Linked DNA regions of Homo sapiens. The protein of the gene in region 1 purifies or fractionates together with the protein of each later gene. This does not show direct contact. Each region holds a gene or a part of one and is shown in the gene's direction. Other genes may lie near its edges.

The links.
Region 2: the proteins of FCGRT (region 1) and PTPRS purify together in Homo sapiens (affinity purification with mass spectrometry; 2 studies listed by BioGRID and IntAct, with this or other methods). This does not show direct contact.
Region 3: the proteins of FCGRT (region 1) and LRP4 purify together in Homo sapiens (affinity purification with mass spectrometry; 2 studies listed by BioGRID and IntAct, with this or other methods). This does not show direct contact.
Region 4: the proteins of FCGRT (region 1) and KIF14 purify together in Homo sapiens (affinity purification with mass spectrometry; 2 studies listed by BioGRID and IntAct, with this or other methods). This does not show direct contact.
Region 5: the proteins of FCGRT (region 1) and GOLIM4 purify together in Homo sapiens (affinity purification with mass spectrometry; 2 studies listed by BioGRID and IntAct, with this or other methods). This does not show direct contact.
Region 6: the proteins of FCGRT (region 1) and SERPINC1 purify together in Homo sapiens (affinity purification with mass spectrometry; 2 studies listed by BioGRID and IntAct, with this or other methods). This does not show direct contact.
Region 7: the proteins of FCGRT (region 1) and PODXL2 purify together in Homo sapiens (affinity purification with mass spectrometry; 2 studies listed by BioGRID and IntAct, with this or other methods). This does not show direct contact.

The regions. Positions count from the first base shown.
Region 1 is NC_000019.10:49,515,661-49,519,160, forward strand, and holds part of FCGRT (IgG receptor FcRn large subunit p51 isoform 1 precursor), read left to right. Parts: intron 1-453; coding exon of another isoform or gene 454-539; intron 540-3,500. UniProt on the Homo sapiens protein: Cell surface receptor that transfers passive humoral immunity from the mother to the newborn. Binds to the Fc region of monomeric immunoglobulin gamma and mediates its selective uptake from milk.
Region 2 is NC_000019.10:5,208,411-5,211,812, reverse strand, and holds part of PTPRS (receptor-type tyrosine-protein phosphatase S isoform 1 precursor), read left to right. Parts: intron 1-44; coding exon 45-223; intron 224-1,007; coding exon 1,008-1,134; intron 1,135-1,218; coding exon 1,219-1,344; intron 1,345-3,402. UniProt on the Homo sapiens protein: Cell surface receptor that binds to glycosaminoglycans, including chondroitin sulfate proteoglycans and heparan sulfate proteoglycan.
Region 3 is NC_000011.10:46,912,051-46,915,550, reverse strand, and holds part of LRP4 (low-density lipoprotein receptor-related protein 4 precursor), read left to right. Parts: intron 1-3,500. UniProt on the Homo sapiens protein: Mediates SOST-dependent inhibition of bone formation. Functions as a specific facilitator of SOST-mediated inhibition of Wnt signaling.
Region 4 is NC_000001.11:200,596,752-200,600,251, reverse strand, and holds part of KIF14 (kinesin-like protein KIF14), read left to right. Parts: intron 1-138; coding exon 139-202; intron 203-1,830; coding exon 1,831-2,015; intron 2,016-3,500. UniProt on the Homo sapiens protein: Microtubule motor protein that binds to microtubules with high affinity through each tubulin heterodimer and has an ATPase activity. Plays a role in many processes like cell division, cytokinesis and also in cell proliferation and apoptosis.
Region 5 is NC_000003.12:168,033,425-168,036,924, reverse strand, and holds part of GOLIM4 (Golgi integral membrane protein 4), read left to right. Parts: coding exon 1-89; intron 90-3,500. UniProt on the Homo sapiens protein: Plays a role in endosome to Golgi protein trafficking; mediates protein transport along the late endosome-bypass pathway from the early endosome to the Golgi.
Region 6 is NC_000001.11:173,914,528-173,918,825, reverse strand, and holds the start of SERPINC1 (antithrombin-III isoform 1 precursor), read left to right. Parts: upstream 1-1,498; 5' UTR 1,499-1,566; coding exon 1,567-1,607; intron 1,608-1,885; exon of another isoform or gene 1,886-2,321; coding exon of another isoform or gene 2,322-2,419; intron 2,420-3,639; exon of another isoform or gene 3,640-3,808; intron 3,809-3,906; coding exon 3,907-4,273; intron 4,274-4,298. UniProt on the Homo sapiens protein: Most important serine protease inhibitor in plasma that regulates the blood coagulation cascade. AT-III inhibits thrombin, matriptase-3/TMPRSS7, as well as factors IXa, Xa and XIa. Its inhibitory activity is greatly enhanced in the presence of heparin.
Region 7 is NC_000003.12:127,642,685-127,646,184, forward strand, and holds part of PODXL2 (podocalyxin-like protein 2 precursor), read left to right. Parts: intron 1-3,500. UniProt on the Homo sapiens protein: Acts as a ligand for vascular selectins. Mediates rapid rolling of leukocytes over vascular surfaces through high affinity divalent cation-dependent interactions with E-, P- and L-selectins.

The DNA.
Region 1 (3,500 bases):
AAGTGATTCTCTCACTTTGGCCTCCCAGGGTGCTGGGATGACAGGTGTGAGCCACTGTGCTTGGCCTTCCTTGCCTTAATGTCCTCATCAGACCCACGCAGCAGCACTTGTCTCTACGCAGCCATCAGAGTCTACGCTCCAGCCACCCAACATAAGCAATCTCCTCCCTCTGGGCATTTGCTCATCCAGTTTCCCCTGGCACCTCTCTGTTCCACCCTTCCCCCTCTCTGCATATACTCCAGCCCTCCTTATTCTTCAAGGTCAGGGCTGGATATCACTTCCTCTGAGAAGCCTTTCCTCAGCTCTGTAGGGCAGAGTTCACTGTTTCCTCCCCGGAGGCCCCCAGATCCCCACTCATTCAACTGTTGGCCAAGAGCATTTGCACTGCCAGGCGCTGCTCTGGGCCTTGAGCAAAGAGGGAAGTGACACACATTCACCCTCTGTGGCTCCCAGGCTGCTGGACAAAGATAGATACCAGCTGGGGATGTGCACAGATATTCATTCCAAGTGCCACAAAGGAGAAGTTGAGACTCAACCAGGTAGTTTTTCTTTAATTGTCTTCTTTCTTTCCTAAGTAGGGAAAATTTCTTTCTTTTTTTGAGACAGAGTTTCGCTCTTGTCGCCCAGGCTGGAGTGCAATGGCGCGATCTCGGCTCACTGCAACCTCCGCCTCCCAGGTTCAAGTGATTCTCCTGCCTCAGCCTCCCGAGTAGCTGGGACTACAGGCGTGCACCACCACGCCTGGCTAATTTTTGTTTGTTTTTTTTTTTTTAGTAAAGACAGGGTTTTACCATGTTGGCCGGGATGGTCTCGATCTTTTGACCTCGTGATCTGCCTGCCTCGGCCTCCCAAAGTGCTGGAATTACAGACGTGAGCCACTGCTCCTGGCCTTTGTTGTTGTTGTTGTTGTTTTTGAGACAGACTCTTGCACTGTCGCCCAGACTGCAGTACTGTGGCGCAATCTTGGCTCACTGCAACCTCCGCCTCCCAGGTTCAAGCAATTCTCCTACCTCAGCCTCCCGAGTAGCTGGGATTACAGGCACACACCACCATGCCTGGCTAATTTTTGTATTTTTAGTAGAGACGGGGGCTTCACCATGCTGGCCAGGCTGGTCTCGAACTCCTGATCTCGTGATCTGCCTACCTTGGCCTCCCAAAGTGCTGGGATTACAGGCATGAGCCACCACTCCTGGCTTAAGGAGGGAAAGTTTCAAACCACACTTAAGTAGAAACAATAGTATAAAACGGACCAGACACGGTGGCTCACGCCTATAATCCCAGAACTTTGGGAGGCCGAGGCAGGTGGATTGCTTGATCCCAGGAGTTCAAGACCAGCCTGGGCAACATAGTAAGACCGCATCTCTACTAAAAACTCAAAAAATTAGCCTGGCATGGTGGTATGTGCCTCTAGTCCCAGCCACTGGGGAGGCTATGGCAGGAGGATCGCTTGAGCTCAGGAGTTTGAGGCTGTAGTGAACTGATTGCAACTCTGCACTCCAGCCCAGATGACAGAGCCAGACCCTGTCTCAAAAAGAAAAAAAATATGGTGGCCAGGTGCAGTGGCTCACGCCTGTAATTCCAACACTTTGGGAGGCCGAGGTGGGCAGATCACTTAAGGTCAGGAGTTTGAGATAAGCCTGGCCAACAGAGTGAAACCCCATCTCTACTAAACATACAAAAATTAGCCGGGTGCGGTGGTGGGTGCTTGTAATTCCAGCTATTCGGGAGGCTGAGGCAGGAGAATCACTTGATCCCGGGAAGCAGAGGTTGCAGTGAGCCGAGATCAAGCCACTGCACTCCAGCCTGGGCAACAAAGCAAGACTCTGTCTCAAAGAAAGAAGGAAAGAAAGAGAGAGGAGAGGGAGAGAGAAAGAGGAAGGAAAGGAAGGAAGGAAGGAAGGAAGCGAGCATCCCATCACTGAGACTTAATAATTATCAACCCATGGTTTTTTGAATTTCACGCACATCCTCACTCACTTCCCCACCCCACTTCACATCAAGCTTTGGTAAATCTCAGACATCACAGTGTTTTTTTCTTTGTTTGTTTGTATTTTGAGATGGAGTCTCACTCTGTCATGCGGGAGTGTAGTGGCTCAGTCTCGGCTCACTGCAAGCTTCGCCTCCCAGGTTCAAACAATTCTCCTGCCTCAGCCTCCTGAGTAGCTGGGATTACAGGTGCCCGCCACCTCGCCCAGCCAATTTTTGTATTTTTAGTAGAGATGAGGTTTCACCATATTGGCCAGGCTGGTCTTGAACTCCTGACCTCGTGATCCACCCACCTTGGCCTCCCAAAGTGCTGGGATTACAGGCATAAGCCACCGCGCCTGGCCAATTTTTGTATTTTTAGTAGAGACGGGATTTCACTATGTTGGCCAGGCTGGTCTCGAACCCTCCACCTCAAGTGATCTGCCCTCCTCAGCCTCCCAAAGTGCGGGAGTCACCGTGCCCAGCCAGACTGTTTTGTTGATAAGTCCTTTAGTATGTAACTCTACTAGGTAAGGGCATTTAAAAAAAATTAATACCAAAACCATCATCACACCTACAACCAATTAACTCTTTAATGGCATCAGATGTCCAGTTTTTGTTCCCATATTCCTGACTGTAAATGTTTTTTAAAGTTTGAATCAGCATCCAGCAAGGTCCACACATTTTGTTGTCTTTTCAGTGTCTTTTTCTGATTGTTGAATTTTTCTTTCTTTCTTTTTTTTTTTTTTTTTCCTTTTTGAGACAGGGTCTTGCTCTGTCACCAGACTGGAGTCCAGTGGTGCAATCATAGCTCACTGCAGTCTGAACTTCCTGGGCTCAAGTAATTCTCCCACTTCAGCCTCCCCAGTAGGTAGGACCACAGGTGCACGCCATCAGGCCTAGCTATTTTTGTTTGTTTGTTTTTTGAGACAAAGTCTTACTCTGTCGCCCAGACTGGAGTGCAGAGGCACGAACTCGGCTCACTGCAACTTCTGCCTCCCGGGTTCAAGCAATTCTCCTGCCTCAGCGTCCCAAGTAGCTGGGATTACAGGCGCAAGCCACCACGCCCTGCTAATTTTTTGTATCTTTAGTAGAGACAGAGTTTCACCATGTTGGCCAGGCTGGTTTCGAACTCCCGACCCCAGGTGATCCACCCACCTCGGCCTCCCAAAGTGCTGGGATTACAGGCGTGAGCCACCGCGCTCGGCCGTATTTTTGTTTTTTTCTTTTTTTTGGAGACGGAGTCTCGCTCTGTCACCCAGGCTGGGGTGCAGTGGCGCGATCTCAGCTCATTGCAACCTCCACCTCCCAAGTTGCACCAATTCTCCTGCCTCAGCCTCCCGAGTGGCTGGGACTACAGGCGCCCACCACCACGCCCGGCTAATTTTTTGTATTTTTAGTAGAGACAGAGTTTCACTGTGTTAGGCAGGATGGTCTCGATCTCCTGACCTCCTGATCCGCCTGCCTCAGCCTCCCAAAGTACTGGGATTACAGGCTTGAGCCACCGCGCCCGGCCGGATTCCAATTTTTTACCA
Region 2 (3,402 bases), about 44 Mb from region 1:
CTTCCTCATCCTGATGGTGGCCTCTGGCTTCCTCCTCCCCACAGCGGCTGGCTAACTCCAAGGCCCACACGTCACGCTTCATCAGTGCCAATCTGCCTTGTAACAAGTTCAAGAACCGCCTGGTGAACATCATGCCCTATGAGAGCACACGGGTCTGTCTGCAACCCATCCGGGGTGTGGAGGGCTCTGACTACATCAACGCCAGCTTCATTGATGGCTACAGGTAGGTGCCATGCCTTTCCCACCTCAGGGCCCCAGAAGGAGCCCATCTCTACTCTCAAGAGGCCTCCAGTCTTGTGGGAGACAGAGCTGGGGAGATACTGGTAGCCCTGAGCTGTTTAAATACACATCTTTAGATGTATATTTAACTGATGGCTGCTGTCCGTGAATCTTTGGGTGTGTGTTTAACTGATGGCTGCTGTCCATAATGTGATTCCATCTGTTCTATCAGTGGTTCTCAATTGGGGTAATTCTGACACCCTGAGGATATTTCTTATTTTCATGAGTACTACTGGTACTGCCTGGGTGGGGACCAGGCATGCTGCTCAGCATCCTACAGTACACAGAACAGCTTGTCTCAGAGAACAATCCAGCGCCAAATGTCAATAGCACTGAGATTGAGAAATCCTGGCAAAGGAGGGGAGGGTGTTCCTGGCAGAGGGTGCCACATGTGCAAAGGCCCGGGGCTGAGAGCTTGGCCCACGCAAGCAACTGAAAGTAGGGCAGTGGCCCTTGAAGGAGATGGAGGGAAGAAATCAGGAGAGGTTAGTGGATAGTCCCGCAGCTTTGTCAAGGGATTTGAATTTGTCATGAGACTGGTGGTTTCCCCACATGCAAAATGGGATCACCAGGAGGGGAAGTGGTGCACCCAGCAGCCATTCCTGGCAGGCAGTGGGGTGGTAGGTGTAGCTGTCACTGGCTTGGTCCTGACCCTCCCGGGCAGCATCAGGTGAGTACCACGCCGGGTCTCCCTGCCGGCCCTGGGCTCATACCCCCAACGCCTGCAGGCAGCAGAAGGCCTACATCGCGACACAGGGGCCGCTGGCGGAGACCACGGAAGACTTCTGGCGCATGCTGTGGGAGAACAATTCGACGATCGTGGTGATGCTGACCAAGCTGCGGGAGATGGGCCGGGTGAGCTAGGGGCCACAGCAGGGAAGGGCGAGGGCCAGACTGTGGCTCAGACAGCGCTGACCACGGCCGCCATCTCCTCCACAGGAGAAGTGTCACCAGTACTGGCCGGCCGAGCGCTCTGCCCGCTACCAGTACTTTGTGGTAGATCCGATGGCAGAATACAACATGCCTCAGTATATCCTGCGAGAGTTCAAGGTCACAGATGCCCGGGTGAGTGAAGAGACAGACTGGCGGGAGGGGCTGGAGCCTTAGTGATCTGGAAAGGGCTGCCCTGGTTGGTGATGGATACAAAGGCCAAGGGTTAGGCATAAGCATTGGGAATCAGGAGAAGTGTCAGCTGACCAGTTGGCCACTTGCTTCTACTGCCACATAGGTGGAAGAGAGGGTCTTATCTCTGTGCTGACCCTGCAGTGTCTCCACTCACTAGGGAACATGGCCCCAGGGGATGATATTCAAGGAAGTGAATGGGGCTTTCCTCTGGAAGCAGCCACCTGTGGAGGATGATGTTAAAGGGCTGAAAGGGACTTGAGGGATTGAGGGTGAGGGGTGGTAGACGGTGGACAAGGAGAGTCAGATGGTGGGGACTGGCACCGTTGGGTGAGGAGAGATGAGTATGGATGGTGTTGGCTCAATGAAGGACTGCAGTGTCAGGTGGAGGGAGAAAGGCCAGGTATTAGGTGGCAACAGATGAAGACTCATAGTGGAAGGTGGCCCTGTTGGGTGACAAAGGATCAAAGTTAGTGGTGGAAGATCGACGATGGTAGAGAACGCAGTGAGGGGATGATAGAGGATGGGGAATGTTGGCCAAGATGATGCCAAAGGATGGTGAAGGCTGCTGAATGAACAGCAATCACCGGGCATTGTGCTGTGAGCAGTGCAAGATGGTGCCCTTGGAGGGGTGGAATCTGGAATTGGAGAGAAGAACATTCGCATAACAGGATGGAGAATGTCAGTGGAATGTGGTAGTTTGGGTCAGTGAAGGGTGATGCTTTATCAGTGATGGATGGAGGAAGACAGAATTGGAGAAGGGCAAATGTTTGGCCAGCAGGGGGTGGAGAAAATCAATGGGAAATACTAGGACTAAGAAAGGACAGTAAACAATAGTCAATGGTATAAACCAATGGGTGGTACAAGATTGAGGAAGATGGGGTTGGGAAAGGAGATTTTAGAAAATGTAAAACATCAGGGAAAGATGGTACATTGGATGGCAAATGGTGGCAGAGGATAACAATTTTGGATGGCACCATTTTGATGGTGGAGGATGGGATTAGAACAAGGCAGATGATGGGGAATGGAGAATGTCAGTGGAAGATGGTACCCTTGGATGGTGGAGAGTGATGAATTGTTAGTGATGGATGGTGGAAAATGGCACCATTGAGTTGTGAAGGATGGAAGATGGCAGAGAATGATGTGGTTGGATGGCACCACTGGGTGGTAGGAAAGGAGACTGCAAAGAGGAATGGTTGAGTAGTGGGGAATGAAGACAGTCAGTGGAAGATGCCATCACTGAATGGTTAAGGATGAGTTACCAAGAGGGGATGGTGGTGGATGATGGAAGATGATGGTGTTGGGTGGAACTCGGGACGGCAGAAGGTAGTGAGTTACCAGCAGTGGGTGGTAGCAGTGGCACTGTTATTGGATGGTGGAAGATGATGGTGTTGGATGGTGGACGATGAAAGATGATGGCACCATTGGGTTGTAGAAGATGAGTCATCATTGATGAGCTATGGACAGTGATGGAGTTGAGTTGTGCTGTAGGGCCCCGAAATGGCACAGAGTGGAAGATGACAGAGGATCATGGTGAATAGGAGCTGGGAAGGGCAGAGCTGGTTGCACTATGGGATGGCAAAGGATGGAGGATGGAGGTGCTGGATGTCATACAGGAAATGTGGGGAGAGGAACAGCTGGGTGGCAAGAAGTGGTGAGGATGAGGTTGGAGCATCTCTTATGGAAAGCAGTACCATTGGATTGTGAAGGACGGTAAGTTGTCAGGGTAAATGAATGGCAGAGAGTGTACAAAATGGGGGTGAGGGCCGGGCCTGGTGGCTCATGCCTGTAATCCCAGCTAATCGGGAGGCTGAGGCAGGAGAATTACTTGAATCACTGGAGGTGGAGGTTGCAGTGAGCCGAGATCACGCCATTGCACTCCAACCTGGGCGACAAGAGTGAAACTCCATCTCAAAAACAAACAAACAAACAAAAAATGGGGGTGAAGATAGGGAGGATGGAGAAAAACCCCCATGGCCGCTGCTGACCTGATAACAAGAT
Region 3 (3,500 bases), on another chromosome or scaffold:
AAAGTTTAAGGTGCTTATTTGGATGCTGCTAGTCCTTGGGGCTTTTCCTAGAGCCTATTGGTTTGGACTCAGCCCACATAACTCTCCAACCTTAAAGATTTTGGAAGGAAACTTGATGGCTGGTAATAGCCCTGAGTGATTTTCATCCTGAAGTTTGAAGTAAGGGCATGGATGACAACCATTGGAAGAGTGGAAAGTGTGTTTGTTCTAGAGGTCTCATCCAGGTAAGGGAAATGTTAAAACTTCTGCCTAGGCGTGCTTGGGTAGATAGAAGGTTGTATCTGAAAATAAGTGCAGAGCAATTGAGCTGAGACTGGTCTCCTTTCCATCTCGCTGTTGTCGTGACCAGGGTTGTCATGGTGCTTGAGTGACCTTGTCCCTGATCTGTTGGGCTTGTGAAACATACTTGGCTTGTCACTGATTTTGGATTTCCTCTTCTGTACCCTGATGAATATCAGATAACATCTTTTGGACTGGCACGTGGTATTAAGAATGACAGGTGCAAGGGAACCAAGTCTGGCCATGTCTGATACAGAGCACGTTGGGTATGTCCATCTTCTGGGCCAGCAAAGAACACAGGAGGTCACAGAGGACACGGTGTTTTATAGCTCTTTGCTCACTCTTTCTACCGATTAACTGCCAGTCTTAACTGTTAGAAGGAAAATAGGAGAAATTGTTTATGTTGCTGCCCCTTTAAAGAAAAAAAAAATACTGGGGGTTCCTGAATAGGAACAGAATTTCAGGGACTACTTTAAGAAGTAATCTTGTCTTTTTTATGATTGGGTAAGATTACGAGACAGTCTGTGCCCTTGGTTGACTAGGTCTGTTAGCCTGTTCCAGCCATGGTCTCTCTACATTCCTTGATGCAGCTTAGCCACGAGTTTTGTCACAGTTGCCTGGACATGGGGCATCTGGGCCCCAGACTGTGTCTGGACTGCCATCTCATCTTCAGCAGCGGAAGCCCTCCTCCCCTCCTCAGCCTGTGAGGATTCAGTGTCCCAGGGAAGACTCAGTGCTGACTGGTTAGCTGGCAGAGCCTGAGTTTGACCTTATAAATAGTTCTGATGACTGCATGGGCTTGTCACTCTCACTCCAGCTTAGAGCTGGCAGGAATGAGTTCCTCGTACAATCGGGAGCATTCCTCAAACTAGGCTCCACACCCATTCACTTGTTCATTCATTCAGCAAACACACATATGTCAAGCATTAATATAATCACTGTATACGAAGCTCAGCAATTAAGAAGCACCCACAGACCTGGGTTTGAATCTTGGCTCTGGCAATTCTTGGTGACCCTGTGCAAAATCTCCCTGAACCTCAGGGTTGTTACCTGCAAAGGCGGGTAGGGTAGGGGAAGGGAAGTAGTAATAGATTATCACATAGGAATATCATAAAATTTACCTGAGATAATAGCATGTTCAAACTATGCAGCACAGAGCTTGGCAACTACTGTGTTACTGTAGAGCTTGATAAAAGTTAGCTGTAAGCAAAGTCACCTAAGTGGATCCGAGATGATTCTTGGCTTTAGAACATGGGAGCCAGGTAAATAATTATGCTACCGTGTTCTGTGCTAAAATTGAGACTTGGTCCTTCATTCATTGCAGCTGGTCTTTTGCTTGTCTCTTTTAAAGATCTGCCCCTTCTTTCTCCCCTTGAAAACGTGATAGAACCGAAGCATAGTTCCCACTTGTGCCCACTCCTAGAAAAGAAGTCTGCTAAGCTATAACATCAGTCTAGGGGAACTCATGTCGCCTTAGTTCTCTTGAGAGAGGTCTGGGGAAATGGAGCTTTTCCTCTGAGAGTTTCCCTTCTTAAGTGGTCAGGGATGCAGCCTAGCAACTTCTCCTGCTAAGATTCCTGTGACATGGGGTGAGAGGGGCTGGCCAGGGACTCTTGTAGCTGGAACAGTTTAGAATTCCAAGCCCTCCCTCCCATTGGCCTGAGAAAGGAGTCAGGCTCCAGAGCTCATAAGGTAGTAATTGCCCCAATTTGGGAGCTGGGCTGTTGTGGAGCCTTCGCAGCTACCATTTTCAATCAGGAAGCCTGTCAGCTTGCAGGCCTAATTGATGTGGGTCTCCAGCCCCGAATAGCCCCCAACCCCTAGTTCCTCCACCTCAAAGTTTGACCCCTGTTGTCTCTTTTGTTTCTTCTTTTTAAGTTGGTGCCAGTGATGTGATTTTTGGGAGCTGCGGAAAGTTGACCGTAACCAAGAGCAGCTGTTAAAAAGAGCCAATTCTCTAGCTTCCTGACGGTTGTCTGCCTCCATTTTCTGTTGTGCGTTTTTGATTTAGCAAGAAGCAAACATCCTAGGTGCCCTTGGGCGCCTCTTACGCCCATCCAAGCAGACTTCATTCTTTCACTGCTCGTAGGCATTCCCATTCTTGCTCACAGATGAGCGGACTGGCTGTTAGCGCTCCCTGACACCCTGTTTCCCCATGCGGAATAGGACTCCCCCATCATTCAGGTTCGAATGAGGGGAGGGGCGCTGTCTGGGACCCAACTGGGGATAGCCTGGCTGGGACTTGCTGCAAGCCCTGACTTGGCCTATGGGAGCTCCCCCTCACCTCTATGCACAGCTGAGGATCAGAGCGGCAAGCAGAGCCGGAAACAAAAGACTGGGAGCAAACCTCCCATCTAGCTGAGAGGCAGTGACACAGAGGTGCTGCTGCATAATTTATCACCGGAGGTTTTCTGGAGCCGGGAAGCTCCTGGCTCCAGGCAGTGCCTTTTTGCGGGAGAGGGACCCTCCCTCTGTCTGGGTGTAGGGCAGAGCAGGTACAGAGAAGGGTATCCAGAGAGACACCTGATTAGCATGTGAAATAAAGAAGCTGCAAGGTTGTAAGTGCCTCCAGGGATCTCTCCAAGCTCGGCAGCTCCACTTCCTGTCACGCCTTGGGGGAGGTGGGGAGGGGTAGTGGCCTGCAACCACGCGCTGGCATGGATGAGGACAAGAGACAGCTTCTCTGTTGAGTTGACTGTAGCCTCCTTCTAACCAAGTGGAGAGGCCAGGTTATGGCATCCACAAGCCTAGCAAATAGGAAAGGGGAGCCCCAGGTTTTCCACCCTCCTTCCACGGGCAGTTTAAACAATAAGTTTCAACTACAGGCTCCCAGAGCCAATAAAAGCCAACAACTCTACAATGTATCTTCCCCAAATGAGAATTTCTGCTCTTCTAGGAATGATCTCCTCCAATGACAATTTTTGCAAATTGTGGGATATGTGGATTTACAAATTGGGATATGTGGTTTAAAAAATCCAAATGTATTTCTGGAGCAGTTAGCATTTTTGAGAGCTTTGCTGTGTCCCTGGTACTGTGATAAGCATTTAGTATATGATATCATATTTATTCCTCACAATATCCTTATGAGGTAGGTAACATTAGATTCCCGTCTTACATTGGCCAGGTGCGATGGCTAACGCCTGTAATCCCAGCACTTTGGGAGGCTGGGGTGGGTGGATCACTTGACGTCAGGAGTTCGAGACCAACCTGGCCAACATGGT
Region 4 (3,500 bases), on another chromosome or scaffold:
AATAGAGCAGCCCACTCCCAGATTATCATATTTTAAATATTACTAGGTAGTTGCCTAATTTTCATTGATTGTCTCTTGACTCTCAATCTTATACATCTGGATGTTTTTAACTCTGTTATTTTCTTTGTCTTTGGAAAGAGTGTGGAAAGAAAAGTTTGAACAAGCTGAAAAAAGAAAACTTCAAGAAACAAAAGAGTTACAGGTATTATTTCAACTTTCTAAACTGATTAGAAAATAAAAGAAATATGCCAAGAAATAAATATTGCCAATATGCCAATGCATGTAAATTTAATGTTTCAAATACTTACTATATACTGACTCTGTACAAAGCAATACCGTAAGGAAAATTAATATAAAGAAATGTTAAGATCAAGACTGGTTGCTTAGAGCCAGCCCATAAACTAGTTGGAAAGTTAAAGTATGAATAAACCATCTTGTTATATTTACTTTGGTTCTACAAATATATATTAAATGTCTATGCTTTTCAGGAACAGGGGAAGCCAAGGTGATTAAACACAGTTTCATCCCTCAGAGAGCTTGTGATCCAGAGAGAGATTTACAAAACGTAAATAGAAGACTGAAATGCAATGTGATTTCAGTAGATTGAGCCATAAGCAATTGCCATTTTTGTAGGTAAAGCATGGTTGAACACTGGCAGTTTCATATGGTTGAACCTAATGTAATGAAAAGTATTTCAAGTGATTGGTAGTGGGGGAGTACTATAAGAATTCAGGAGAAGAAGGGAAAATTCCTTGCGCATGGCCAATCCAATCTCATAAAAGAGGTGGCATTTGAGATGGGCTTTGAAGTTTGGGTAAGATTTTAATAGGAAGAGAAAAGGAAGAGCACATTCTTGGAAGAGAAAATTCTCTGAAAGTAAAGGTAGAAAAGTTTGAGTTGTCTTTAGAAAGGGTACGTAGATCAGTTTTACTGGAAGCAGTTTATATGAGATCATAAGGAGATACAATTGGAAAGATATGTTATGATTAGTTTATGAAGGACTTGATTTCCAGGCCAAGGAAATTAAGTTTTATCCTGTAGGAAGTGAGAAGCTGTTAAAAAGTGACCAGGGAATTTACATTTTGAGAGCACCCTTTCGAGAGAATTAACCTGGCATAGGATATAAGATGGATTGAAAACAGAAGCTGTTGACGGTGATCAAGAGGCTGCTTCAGTAGTTTTGGTGTGAGTTGACAGGGGCCTGTGGTGAAGGCAATGAAGATGCAACAAAACAAACTGATCTATTCTAAAGACGGTCAGTCAATAAGAAGACACAATTTGGTGATGATAGATTGATGTATGAGTAGACTGAGGATGGTGAAGGACAAAGAAGGTAGGGAGGTCACAAAGGAGAGATTCTAAGGAAGGAGGAGAGAGTCTAAAAAACCTTTATGGCCGGGCACGGTGGCTCACGCCTGTAATTCCAGCACTTTGGGAGGCTGAGGCGGGTGGATCACCTGAGGTCAGGAGTTCGAGACCAGCCTGATCAACATGACGAAACCCTATCTCTACTAAAAATACAAAAATTAGCCGGGCGTGGTGGCATGCGCCTGTAGTCTCAGCTACTTGGGAGGCTGAAGCAGGAGAATCGTTTGAACCCAGGAGGCAGAGGTTGCAGTGAGCCGAGATCGTGCCACTGCACTCCAGCCTGGGTGACACAGCGAGACTCTGTCTCAAAAAAATAAAAATAAAAAAATAAATAAATAACCTTTAATTTAGTGAGACTTCATATAGAATTGTTTTAATGTTTAATATAGACCATTTGTTTTAGGTGAATTTAACAATTTCATACTGTGATTAAGATTAATTTCTTTTTCTGACTTCTACCAGAAAGCAGGAATTATGTTTCAAATGGACAATCATTTACCAAACCTTGTTAATCTGAATGAAGATCCACAACTATCTGAGATGCTGCTATATATGATAAAAGAAGGAACAACTACAGTTGGAAAGTATAAACCAAACTCAAGCCATGATATTCAGTTATCTGGGGTGCTGATTGCTGATGATCATTGGTATGTTAATCCTCTAAAAAAAAAGAAAAGGCACCTGTTCTATATCTTGATAACATGTGGTTTCCTTCATATGGCATATTCGTTGATACTGATCGTTTGGTAGAATTCTTCAAACCCATTGTTTAGTCAGGAAAAACATACATTCTGAGTGTGTTATAAGGATGATAGGTCAGTTACTCTCAATATAAAGTACAGTGTAATGCTCTCTCTGTTTTTGTTTTGGCATACTTGATCTGTTGATTGAAGAATAATTTATTTTCTTGCAATTATAATGATGCACATGCAAGTAAACTATCTATCTTACATAACAGAATTTTTGGTTGGATTGACCAATTTAAAAATGTTACTTTATGTGAATTTTGTTCATATGAATGGAATACTTGTATATATTGTTGGAATGATAGCGTATGTAAACTTTTTTGACTCTGCATTGTGTTTCCAAGATTTGTGTACATTGGTTCCTGTTTTATTTTCACTGCTATGAAGTATTCCATTGTATGAGTTTATCTCTTATAAAGTTTAGGAAGTGCTTTTAAATTGTATGTCTGAGAGTAGAGATACTAGGTTGTAGAATATGTGCATATTCAACTTTAGTAGCTAATTTCAAATTATTTTCCAAAATGAATTTTTACTCCCATTGGCCTTGAGAATACCTGTTACTCCACATCGTTGCCAATACTTAGTACTGTCAGACTTTATGCCAATCTGATGAACACTAAATAGTATATCATTATGGATTCATTTTACATTTCTTTGATTAATAATAAGGTTGAACATCTTTTCATGTGTTGATTGGCCATTTTTGTTTACTATTGTAACTTGCCTCTTCATATCTTTTGTTGATTTTTCAACTGATTTGCTTATTTCTTAATAATTTGTAGGAGTTGCCAATCTTTCGTGAGCTTTTTGGTATAAATATCTTTTTTTCTAACGTGTAACATCTTTTTACTCTCTCTGGTGCCTTTGATTGATTGAAGTTCTTAATTTTATTGTAGTACCTGGCATCAGTCTTTTCCTTTATGATTGTCAGTTTTTATGTCTTAAAGAAAGAATGTTCTGGCTGGGCGTGGTGGCTTATGCCTGTAATCCTAGCACAGGTGTGTGGGCTCAGGAGTTTGAGTCCAGCCTGGGCAACATGGTGAAACCCTGTCTCTACTAAAAATACAAAAAATTTTCTGGGCGTGGTGGTACCTGCCTGTAATCCCAGCTACTCAGGAGGCTGAGGCATGAGAATCGCTTGAACCTAGGAGGTGGATGTTGCAGTGTGCCGAGATCATCATGCCACTGTACTTCAGCCTGAGTGACAGAGCGAGACTATGTCTCAAAAAAAAAAAAAAAAAAAAAAAAAGAGAGAGAGAGAGATAGAGTGTTCTGGCCAGGTGCGGTGGCTCACGCCTATAATCCTAACAGTTTGGGAGGCTGAGGCGGCAGATTACTTGAGACCAGGAGTTCAACATCAGCCTGGCCAACATGGTGAAACCTCAT
Region 5 (3,500 bases), on another chromosome or scaffold:
CAGCAGAACAGCAAAATGTGACCCAGGTGGCACATTCTCCACAAGGTTACAACACAGCAAGGGAGAAGCCAACCCGAGAGGTGCAGGAGGTAAGGGGCGTGAACTGGTAATCTATGGTTAGGTCACTTTCTCTGTCAAGTTGCCAAGAGGGGACCTGCTTTTAATATTGCCAACTTTTCTGGGAGAGCAGTAGTTCTCAAATTTTAGTATATCAGAATTGCCAGTAGGGCGTGATAAAACACAGATTACTGGGTCCCAGGCCCAGAGTTTCTGATTTAGTTAATTTGGAGTGAGGCCTAAAGATTTGCATTTCTAACTGATTTAGCTGGTCTGAGTAGCAAACTTTGAGAACTGCTGCTAGTATTTTCTTTCTTTTTTTCTCTGAGACAGTGTCATGCTACGTCGTCCAGGCTGGAGTGCAGTGGCACAATCTTAGCTCACTGCAACCTCCGCTTCCCGGGTTCAAGCAATTCTCCCTGCCTCAGCCTCCCGAGTAGCTGGGATTATAGGCGCCCGCCACCACGCCTGGCTAATTTTTGTATTTTCAGTAGAGACAGGGTTTCGCTATGTTGGCCAGGCTGGTCTTGAACTCCTGACCTCAGGTGATCCGCCCGCCTTGGCTTCCCAAAGTGCTGGGATTATAGGCGTGAGCCACCACACCTGGCCGCTGCTAGTATGTCTGAGAAAGGCTTTAATGGCTTTGTCTTTATTCATGTAGGTTTATTTGTCTTCAAGGAGTTGTAGTATCTGAGTTTTTCAAGGTTGGGGATTTTGCGGGGGTTAGGGTGAGAACGTTAAATGATCATGAGGATTTTATGTGACAGTCAACCCACTCAAATATTAAAGTTAATAATATATTTTAACTTGGAGCAGTGCTAGGTCTACACAGAGCATGTCAAAATTTGAATTAAATGACCTGTTTGACACTCCTACGGGTATGAGTGCTAGTCAAATAATACACCTTTTTATATTCTTGTTCTTTATAAAAATTAAGCCTTAAGAATATCTCATAAGTGAGACATCAGAAGTAGTTACCATTACCACTAATTTCTACAAAGGTTGTTTTTTTTTTTTCCAATCATCTGTAATAAAAAAATAGGCAATATGGTTATCTTTCTGACAAAGTGGTTGTTTTAAACTTTTAAGTTCAGGGGTACATGAGCAAGTTTGTTACGTAGGTAAACTGTGTCATGGGAGTTTGTTGTAAAGATTATCTTATCACCCAGCTATTTAGCCTAGTACCCATTAGCTATATTCCTGCTCCTCTCCCTCCACCTTCTGATAGGCCGTACAGTGTGTTGTTCCCCTCTATGTGCTTATGTGTCTCATCATTTAGCTCCCACTTATAAGTGAGAACATGTAGTATTTGACTTTCTGTTCCTGTGTTGGTTTGCTACAGATGATGGCCCCCAGCTCCATCCATGCCCCTGCAAAGGACATGATCTTGTTCTTTTTTTATGACTGCATAGTATTCCATGGTGTTTATGTATCACATTTTTCTTTATCAAAGTCTATAATTGGTGGGCATTTAGGTTGATTCCATGTCTTTGCTATTGTGAATAGTGTTGCAGTGAATGTGTCTTTATAATGGAATGATTTCTATTCCTCTGGGCATATACCCAGTAATGGGATTTTGCTGAGTCAAATGGTATTTATATCTTTAGGTCTTGGAGCAGTCTCCACACTGTCTTTCATGATGGTTGAACTAATCTGCACTCCCACCAACAGTGTATAACCATTCCTTTTTCTTCACAACCTCGCCAGAATCTGTTATTTTTGACTTTTTAATAATAGCTCTTCTGACTGGTGTGAGATAATATCTCATTGTGGTTTTGATTTGCATTTCTCTAATGATCAGTGATGCTGAGTTGTTTTTTTTTTTTTTTTGTATGATTGTTGGCCACATATATGTTTGTGTTAGTCCGTTTTCATGCTGCTCATAAAGACATACCCTAGACTGGTTGATTTAAAAAAGAAAGAAGTTTAATTGGACTTACAATTCCACATGGCTGGGGAAGCCTCACAATCATGGTGGAAGGCCAGGAGGAGCAAGTCCCATCTTCCATGGATGGCAGCAGGCAGAGAGAGAGAGCTTGTGCAGGGTAACTCCTCTTTTTAAAACGATCAGATCTTGTGAAACTTGTTCACTATTGTGAGAGCAGCACGGGAAAGACTTGACCCCATGATTGAGTTACCTCTAACCGGGTTCTTCCCACAACACGTGGGAATTCAAGATGAGATTTTGGTGGGGACACAGCCAAACCATATCAGTGTCTTCTTTTGATGTGTGTGTTCATGTCCTTTGCTCACAAAGTGGTTTTTAACATTAAAGAGAAGACTGAGAAAACTTTCCTCCAAGTTATGGGAATAATTAAGTTGATATGAGTAGACTTCATATATGAGCCTCTTCACTCTGTTCAGGGTATTCCTTCAACAGACAGGTTCAGTATCTTCATGGACTCTTATTCTTTCTCAGGCTCTTATGTTAATAACTAAAGAGAGCATGACCAGATCACTGGCCTGGCAGTTGGTTCTATTTTCTGCCCTTGTCAGACTGCCAGTTTACTGGATTAATCTTCCAGTGACTCAGATCTTCAGTTTTTCCATCTCTGAGGTGGAGATAGGAGTTATCTGCACTAACCTTCCTCACTAGGATATTGTGAAGATAAATGACAAGTGTTTGAAAGTACTTAGAGCTCTTTAGAGAAATATTTTTCTGTAAAGCCAGGGCAGTATTATGTCAAACTTGCCAGATATGTGAGGATGTCGGTGGAATGTGCAACTCCAGTTGTCCTCAAATGTCTGAGAAAGGACTTTTCTCCCCAGTTTATTAATACAGTCCAATTTCTCAGATTTGATAATTATATCTCTGCTAATTTAAGAATAGGATTTCACATTTATTTCAATTTTGGGAGAGCAGTCTAACCAAAGAAGATTTTTTTTTCTGAAGGTTAAAGAGAAAAAAAGAGTGACGTTTGTTTCTGTTGATATACTATATTCTCTTTCTTCCTCACTTTCTAGGTAGTGCAGATCATATAGAGATCGCTGAAACTTATAGGGAGAACTGATTTGAGTCAACTAATTTTAGAGGAGGGTTATTCTGAAAAAGCCATTTCTTCTTTTTCTGCTCAGGGTTTTCAATATTAGCAATAAAAAATGTTTACAAAAGAGTCCTGCTGGTTTACAAATAATTACTACTTTAATACATTAAAAATATTTTATTGTATCTTGTTTAACAGGCACTGTGTTGAACTAACATGGATGTTCATTAGTAATGGCATTCTTTTTTTTTTTTTTTTTTTTTTTTTTTTTTTTTTTGAGACGGAGTCTTGCTCTGTCGCCCAGGCTGGAGTGCAGTGGCGCAATCTCGGCTCACTGCAAGCTCCGCCTCCCGGGTTCACGCCATTCTCCTGCCTCAGCCTCCCGCGTAGCTGGGACTACAGGCGCCCGCCACCACGCCCGGCTAATTTTTTGTGTTTTTTTAGTAGAGACGGGGTTTC
Region 6 (4,298 bases), on another chromosome or scaffold:
CTGATTTTTTTTTTTTGAGATGGAGTCTTGCTCTGTCACCCAGGCTGGAGTGCAATAGCACGATCTCGGCTCACTGCAACCTCTGCCTCCTGGGGTCAAGTGATTCTCCTGCCTCAGCCTCCTGAGTAGCTGGAATTACAGGTGCCCACCACCATGCCCAGCTATTTTTTGTATTTTTAGTAGAGATGGGGTTTCACCAGGTTGGCTAGGCCGGTCTCGAACTCCTGACCTCAGGTGATCCACCTGCCTCAGCCTACCAAAGTGCTGGGATTACAGGTGTGAGCCACCACGCTTGGCCTAAAATACTGATTCTTTATGTGATTGCTGTATGTCTCCCCCGAATGGAATCCCAGCCCCAAGAACAGTGTCTGCTGGCACAAGCAGCACTCGTGTATTTGTTGAACTCAAGTGGTTGAACAGGAGACTTTTCAATAGTCTTTAATCTAGGGTGACAGATGAGCCTCTGGGCATTCTGGGGCCCTTTGGGACAGTTCTCGGCTACTGTTCACACTGCACATGGAGGGCTTCAAAGGATCCAGGGTCTGAATCAGCCAAGAACTTAGACACAGCTTCAGTTCAGGAGAGATGTCCTCTCTCATGAACGAAGAGCTCTCGAAAATGCCTATGACTGCAACAACAACTACAAGGAGTCCTTGATCACACAGCAGGAGGCACATGCGCCCTGTGAACTTGGTGGCTGCAGTCCTTGTGATGGTGCTTTTGGCTATTTCAGAAGAGGGAAATGTAAACAAACCTGCCCTTTATCTCCACTAGTTTGAATTTACCCAATCTCCCCAATAACTAATAAAAATAACGATACACATAAATATAATTTAGTTTGTTTTTATTTCAGCAGTTGTACGTGGGTTTTTCACCTGCCCCGCATTCTGTCTCCTGATCCCCCAGTAGAGTTTTGCTAAGTATTTCCCAGCTGCTCACACCCCTTAGAAACGCGCTTGGCATGCACCCCGAGGCCCTGCTCTTCTCTCCCTGTCCCACCACTTCAGGGCTGCTGGGGAATGGGTCTCTCTGTGGGCCACAGGTGTAACCATTGTGTTTTCCTTGTCTGTGCCAGGGACACCTTGGCACTCAGATGCCTGAAGGTAGCAGCTTGTCCCTCTTTGCCTTCTCTAATTAGATATTTCTCTCTCTCTCTCCCTCTCTCCATAAAGAAAACTATGAGAGAGGGTGGGTATGAACCAAGTTTGTTTCCTTGGTTAGTTTCCTAACCAAGTTTGAGGGTATGAACATACTCTCCTTTTCCTTTTCTATAAAGCTGAGGAGAAGAGTGAGGGAGTGTGGGCAAGAGAGGTGGCTCAGGCTTTCCCTGGGCCTGATTGAACTTTAAAACTTCTCTACTAATTAAACAACACTGGGCTCTACACTTTGCTTAACCCTGGGAACTGGTCATCAGCCTTTGACCTCAGTTCCCCCTCCTGACCAGCTCTCTGCCCCACCCTGTCCTCTGGAACCTCTGCGAGATTTAGAGGAAAGAACCAGTTTTCAGGCGGATTGCCTCAGATCACACTATCTCCACTTGCCCAGCCCTGTGGAAGATTAGCGGCCATGTATTCCAATGTGATAGGAACTGTAACCTCTGGAAAAAGGTAAGAGGGGTGAGCTTTCCCCTTGCCTGCCCCTACTGGGTTTTGTGACCTCCAAAGGACTCACAGGAATGACCTCCAACACCTTTGAGAAGACCAGGCCCTCTCCCTGGTAGTTACAGTCAAAGACCTGTTTGGAAGACGTCATTTCAAGTGCTCTCCCTCCCACCCCACCTCTTGGGGTAAGGCCTTTCCTAAGCTACCCCTTGGGTCCCTAGCCTAAGAAACAAGGGGGATGTCATCCCTGGTGTAAAGATGCTGTGCAGGAAGTCAGCACTCACGGGATCCAGGGGACGCTCCAAGGGGAATCCCCAGGGCCTGCCATCCATCCGGGAAGAGAGCAAATGCTACCCATGAGGACCTCCTCACTCCCTTTTTGCTCTTTCTTCCACTCAGATCCACCCCACTCCACCCCCACCCAAATCCCAGTGACCTTTGACTAAAGGGCCAAAACTGCTTCCTTTTCTCACAATGAGAGTTGTCCCTCCCTCAATGCCACACACACTCCCTTCTTCATCTGAGTTGTCACAGGAGGCTAGAAACGGGGTGGTGGCACAACTGTCTTGGTTTTAATTTGTGCTTCATAGCCCTCCCAGGGTCCTCTCAGCCTCAAATTGCATTTCCAAATGTAGTTGAAGGACAGAGTGGGCAACCGAAGGCAGTGGAGATGGGAAGATGAATGGCAGGGTCCTCTCCTCTCTCTCTCTGCTTCTTCAGCCTGCCTTCCACATCTCCCTTGGTGCCGCTGCTTCTCTCCGGCTTTGCACCTCTGTTCTTGAAAGGGCTGCAGAACTGGACTCAGACCACGCAAGAAGGCAAGTCCCCCTCAGCTGCCCCAGCTTCCAGCCAGCCCCAGGCTTGCCCAACGGACCACGTCCGTGAATCTGCACTGGGTGCCTGTCTTTCTCTCCCAGGAGAAGATGGGAAGATCCAGTACCCACACACAGACCCCCTTGTGTACACGCAGGAACCATAAACCAGCTGGAGGCAGCCCCTGCCCCACCCTGTCTTATCTACAAAAAATATTACAAGAGACTTTATCTCTTGATTTGCTTCATCGAGTGTCCCAACTACCTCATTTTTTTAAAATGTGAAATTAGCTTCATTTACCTTCATTGAATCCATGTTGGCGACTATTAAAAATTCCAGGCAATAAAAAGGGATGAGAGCCTGAACTAAAGCAGTGGCAATAACTGGTGAAAGAGTAAAAAAACAGAACTGATTGACTCTGGGGTGAACTGATTGACTCTGGGGTTTGACTAAATGAGGAGGAGAGAGGGAGGAATCCAGGGTGATTCTCAGGTTTCTGTACGGGATTCACTGAGCCCACTCACAGGAGCAGGCCTGTGGGGGAGAATTAATTACCAGTTCAGTTTGGTCCTGTTTCCCTGAAGAACTTGTAGGAGTTCCTGGTGGAACTGTCCAGCAAATAGTCAGTCTGGAGCTCAGTGGAAGGGTTAGGGCTGGAGCTAGAGATGTAGGAATCTTCAGCACACAGATATTGCCATTGTTTTTGTTTGTTTGTTTGTTTGTTGTTGCTGTTTTGAGACACAGTCTCACTTTGTCACCCAGGTTGGAGTGCAGTGGCACAATCTCAGCTCACTGCAACCTTCGCCTCCTGGGTTCAAGTGATTCTTCTGCCTCAGCCTCCCTAGTAGCTTGGGACTACAGGTGTGCGCCACCACACCCAGCTAATTTTTGTATTTTTAGTAGAGACAGGGTTTCACCATGTTGTCCAGGCTGATCTCGAACACCCAACCTCAAGTGATCTGCATGCCTCAGCCTCCCAAAGTGCTGGGATTACAGGCGTGAGCCACCGCACCCGGCCAGATATTGCCTTTGCTCCATCCATTTCTTCTTACTTCTCTTGTGTTGCTGAAATCTCTCTGCTGCATCTATCAGAGTCCTTCCCCAAACAGTTTCTGTAGATGGCTCCCCCTACCACCCTGACTCTTCACTGGGCACTAAAGCCGATTTTTTAGGCATGCACATTCCATGTCACAAACAGGAAGCTTCTCATTCTTTTTTCTCCCAGCGTGGGGAATTGAGCACATAATACTCCAAATAACCATCAGATGATTCTAATTCCAACATGACCACGTCCAGGCAACTGAACTGTCCCCTGGCAAGAAGTCTAGGACTGAACCTGTCCCGGGCCCCTGTACTTGGTTCAAAGGATTTAGCCTTTCTCTTGGCCACACCAGGTGGGCTGGAATCCTCTGCTTTACTGGGGCAACCCTGTGGTGGGCAGTGGGGCTAGGGGTTGCAGCCTAGCTTAACTTGGCATTTTGTCTCCTTGCAGGAAGGTTTATCTTTTGTCCTTGCTGCTCATTGGCTTCTGGGACTGCGTGACCTGTCACGGGAGCCCTGTGGACATCTGCACAGCCAAGCCGCGGGACATTCCCATGAATCCCATGTGCATTTACCGCTCCCCGGAGAAGAAGGCAACTGAGGATGAGGGCTCAGAACAGAAGATCCCGGAGGCCACCAACCGGCGTGTCTGGGAACTGTCCAAGGCCAATTCCCGCTTTGCTACCACTTTCTATCAGCACCTGGCAGATTCCAAGAATGACAATGATAACATTTTCCTGTCACCCCTGAGTATCTCCACGGCTTTTGCTATGACCAAGCTGGGTGCCTGTAATGACACCCTCCAGCAACTGATGGAGGTACGACCAAAGGTCTTCTGCCCAG
Region 7 (3,500 bases), on another chromosome or scaffold:
ATATGTACAAAACATATGTGTACGTTCATTATATACAGAATATGTGTATTCTATAGAATATACATATACACAAAAATAGTGACCACTTATCACTCTTCTTTTTTATTTGAAGCACAGTGTAGTTAAGAGAACAGGCTTTGGAGTCAGGAAGGCTCCAGTGCTGTCATTTAACAGTGATGCAATTTTTGGCGAGTAACTAACCCTAAGCCTCAGTTTCCCATCTAGGAAATGGAGATAATTATATACCTACCTCACAGGGTTGTGAGGTTCACACACCATCATACATTTCGAGCACTCAGCTCAGTGCTTGGCACATTGTTAAGTGCTCTGTGACTATTAGCTATTATTATTACTTTCCTGTTTTTTTCTATTGAGTCTTTAATTTTTTCTTATCCCTGTACAAATCTGAAAAAGGATACTAACTTTCCTCTGACATACGTAGAAAACATTTTTCCAGTTTGTCAACTGCTTGTATTTTTATTATAATTTTTGGCATAAAGAAATTAAATATTTTATAAGCTTAAAATTACTTTTTTTTTCTTCGAGATGGAGTTTTGCTCTAGTCACCCAGGCTGGAGTGCAATGGTGTGATCTCAGCTCACTGCAACCTCTGCCTCCCAAGTTCAAGCAATTCTCCTACCTCAGCTTCCCAAGTAGCTGGGATTATAGGCATGTGCCACCACGCCCAGCTAATTTTGTATTTTTAGTAGAGATGGGATTTCACTATGTTGGCCAGGCTGGTTTCAAACTCCTGATCTCAAGTGATCCACCTGCCTCAGCCTCTCAAAGTGTTGGGATTACAGGCATGAGCCACCACACCCAGCAAAATTACTTCTTTTAAAATGTTTTTATGTGTTTTTCTTTACTTTATGATTAGAAAATACTTTCTGCCCTTGAGATACATGCACCTTTCTTCCTTCTATTCTTTTTTTTTAATGTAAATTCTTTTTTTAAAATTATTTTTATTTTTTGGACACAGGGTCTCGCTTTGTACCTCAGGCTGGAGTGCAGCAGCACAATCTCAGCTCACTGCAGCCTTGACCTCCTGGGCTCAATCGATCCTCCTGCTTCAGCCTCCCAGGTAGCTGGGACTACTGGTGTACCCCACCACGCCTGGTTAATTTTTCTGTTTTTTGTAGAGACAGGGTTTTGCCATGTTTCCCAGGCTGGTCTTGAACTCCTGGGCTCAAGCAATCCACCTGCCTCAGCCTCCCAAAGTGCTGGGATTACAGGTGTGAGCCAGCACGCCTGGCCCCTTCTATTCTTTAGCTTAATTTTTTACATTTAAGTCCAATCTAGCTGTAATTTATTTTTGTGTGTGGTGTAAGATAAGGATCTAATTTCATTTTCTCCATATAGATCATCTATTGTCATGGCGGCATCCATTGATAAATCTGTCCTCTTATCATTTTAAAGAAATGATATTTTGTTGCTGTTGTTGTTTTGAGATGGAGTCTCACTCTGTTGCCCAGGCTGGAGTGCAGTGGTGTGATCTCTGCTTACTGCAACCTCTGCCTCCGAGGTTCAAGTGATCCTCCTGCCTCAGACTCCCTGGTAACTGGGATTACAGGCGTGCCACCATGCCCAGCTAATTTTTGTAATTTTAGTAGAGGTGGGTTTTACCGTGTTGCCCAGGCTGACTGAACTCCTGACCTCAAGTGATCACCCACCTTAGCCTCCCAAAGTATTGTGATTACAGGTGTGAGCCGCTGTGCCTGGCCAAGGAATGATTTAAACAAACTTTTACATTGTACCAGACAATTATTGGGTCTTTTTCTGGCCTTTCCCTTTTGTTGAGACTATTGAGCGTCTAGTGTGAGGTAAGCAGTCACGCAGAGAGCATTGGCCTCAGGACCACAGTGGAGGGCCCTGAAGCCTTGATGAGCTCGATTTGTTGTCCTCCCCCCTCCCCAGGGGATTCGTTTCCCTTTCTTTTTCTTTCAGTTCATGTCTCTTCCTCTCCCATTTCCTTCCCTAGGTCTCATAAGAATAAAAATAGCTCTCATTCATTGAATACCGGCTATGCATAGGCCTTTGCCTCGATTGTCTCTAGTCCTCACCACAGCTGCATACAGCTTGGCTGTGAGGTGGAGATACCAATCACCCTACCCAGGATGGGCAGAAGGCTAGGGAGGTGCAGGGAGGAGGCCAGGAGGCAGAGGAGGTGCAGGGAGGAGGCCAGGAGGCCAGGCAGGTGCAGGGAGGAGAGTTGCTTCAGTCCTGTCCCTCATTGCTCCTCTCTTGACCTGTCCCCTCGCCTTACGTTTCCTCAGGTCAATCTCTTCTCTGTACTACCTGACCATGATCCTGTGAAAAAACTGGAGTTGCCCATCTTCTTCTCAAACAAACTAGCAAACAAACCCCTTCTCAAACCCCAAAGCCCACAGGTTAAAGGCTGAACTTATTAGCATGGCAGAAAATGCTCTTGATAGTCCGGCCCCAGCCTTCCCCAGCCTCTTCTCCTTCCTTGCTCCAGCATGCATCTGATTAGCTCATCATCAGCTTGTTCTCTTCCTTGCTTGGCAGAGTTGAACTGAGGCATGGGGAAGTAGGGTGCTTTGCCCAAGGACACATTGCTTGGATGTAATGGAGCTGGATCTAGAGTCAGTGTCTTCTCACTGACAACAGCCTGGCCTATTCCCTAAGCCTGTGATGCACTTGTTCCTCTTGTCCCATCTGCTGGGAAGCTCTTCTCCATCCTGATGTGCTAGTGGATATGTATTCGTCCTTGAGTACCTAGCTCAAGAGGACTAGCTTCAAGAGGCTTTTGCCAGCTCTGACCAATGAGCAGGACCAGTGCACGTGGTTATGCTGGTGGTGCCCTGTCCGGGGCTCCTGACCGAGCATGGGAGTTGGAGCTGAAGTCCAGCATACACCCTGCCAACCAGGCCATGGGCTGGGTGGGAGGAGCACCTTTTTCTAATTCATTTGCCCAGAGGGGACATCTCCGTGTACTGGCAGTGGCCCTGAAATCAGGCTAGTGACCCCTGCTTCTGTTTTCTTGCAGCACCTTGATGGCATATGATTAGGACATGACAGAAGAGAAAGTGGCTAAGGTGGCAGGCTGACAGCGAATAGTCAGGCTGGTGTAGGAGGCAGCCCAGGGGACAGTGGCGTGCCCTACCCCCCTATTCTTGTCTGCTCTTGTGCCCCGGAGCCACAGGCTTCTGTCTAGGGGTTCTTGGGGAGAAGGAGGTGGATCACCTCTTGGGGGTTGGAGGAGTCAAAAGAACCTTGAGAGGGCATGCCTGGGTTGGGAGTCCTGCAGAGTCCAGATTGACTGTGCCAAGTGCTATCCTAACATGGCCATTAGGGACATTGAACTCCATGCAGCAGTAGCAGGGACTGCTGAAAACCATGCTGCAGACAGGCCAATCTCAGATCAAGTACAAGTACATCAATCAATGTATTCAACACCCAGTATGTGCCCAGCACTATGTTAGGGGTTGTGGGTTCTCATTTAACGTCCACTGAAAAATGTAAGTATATATTCTTACTTC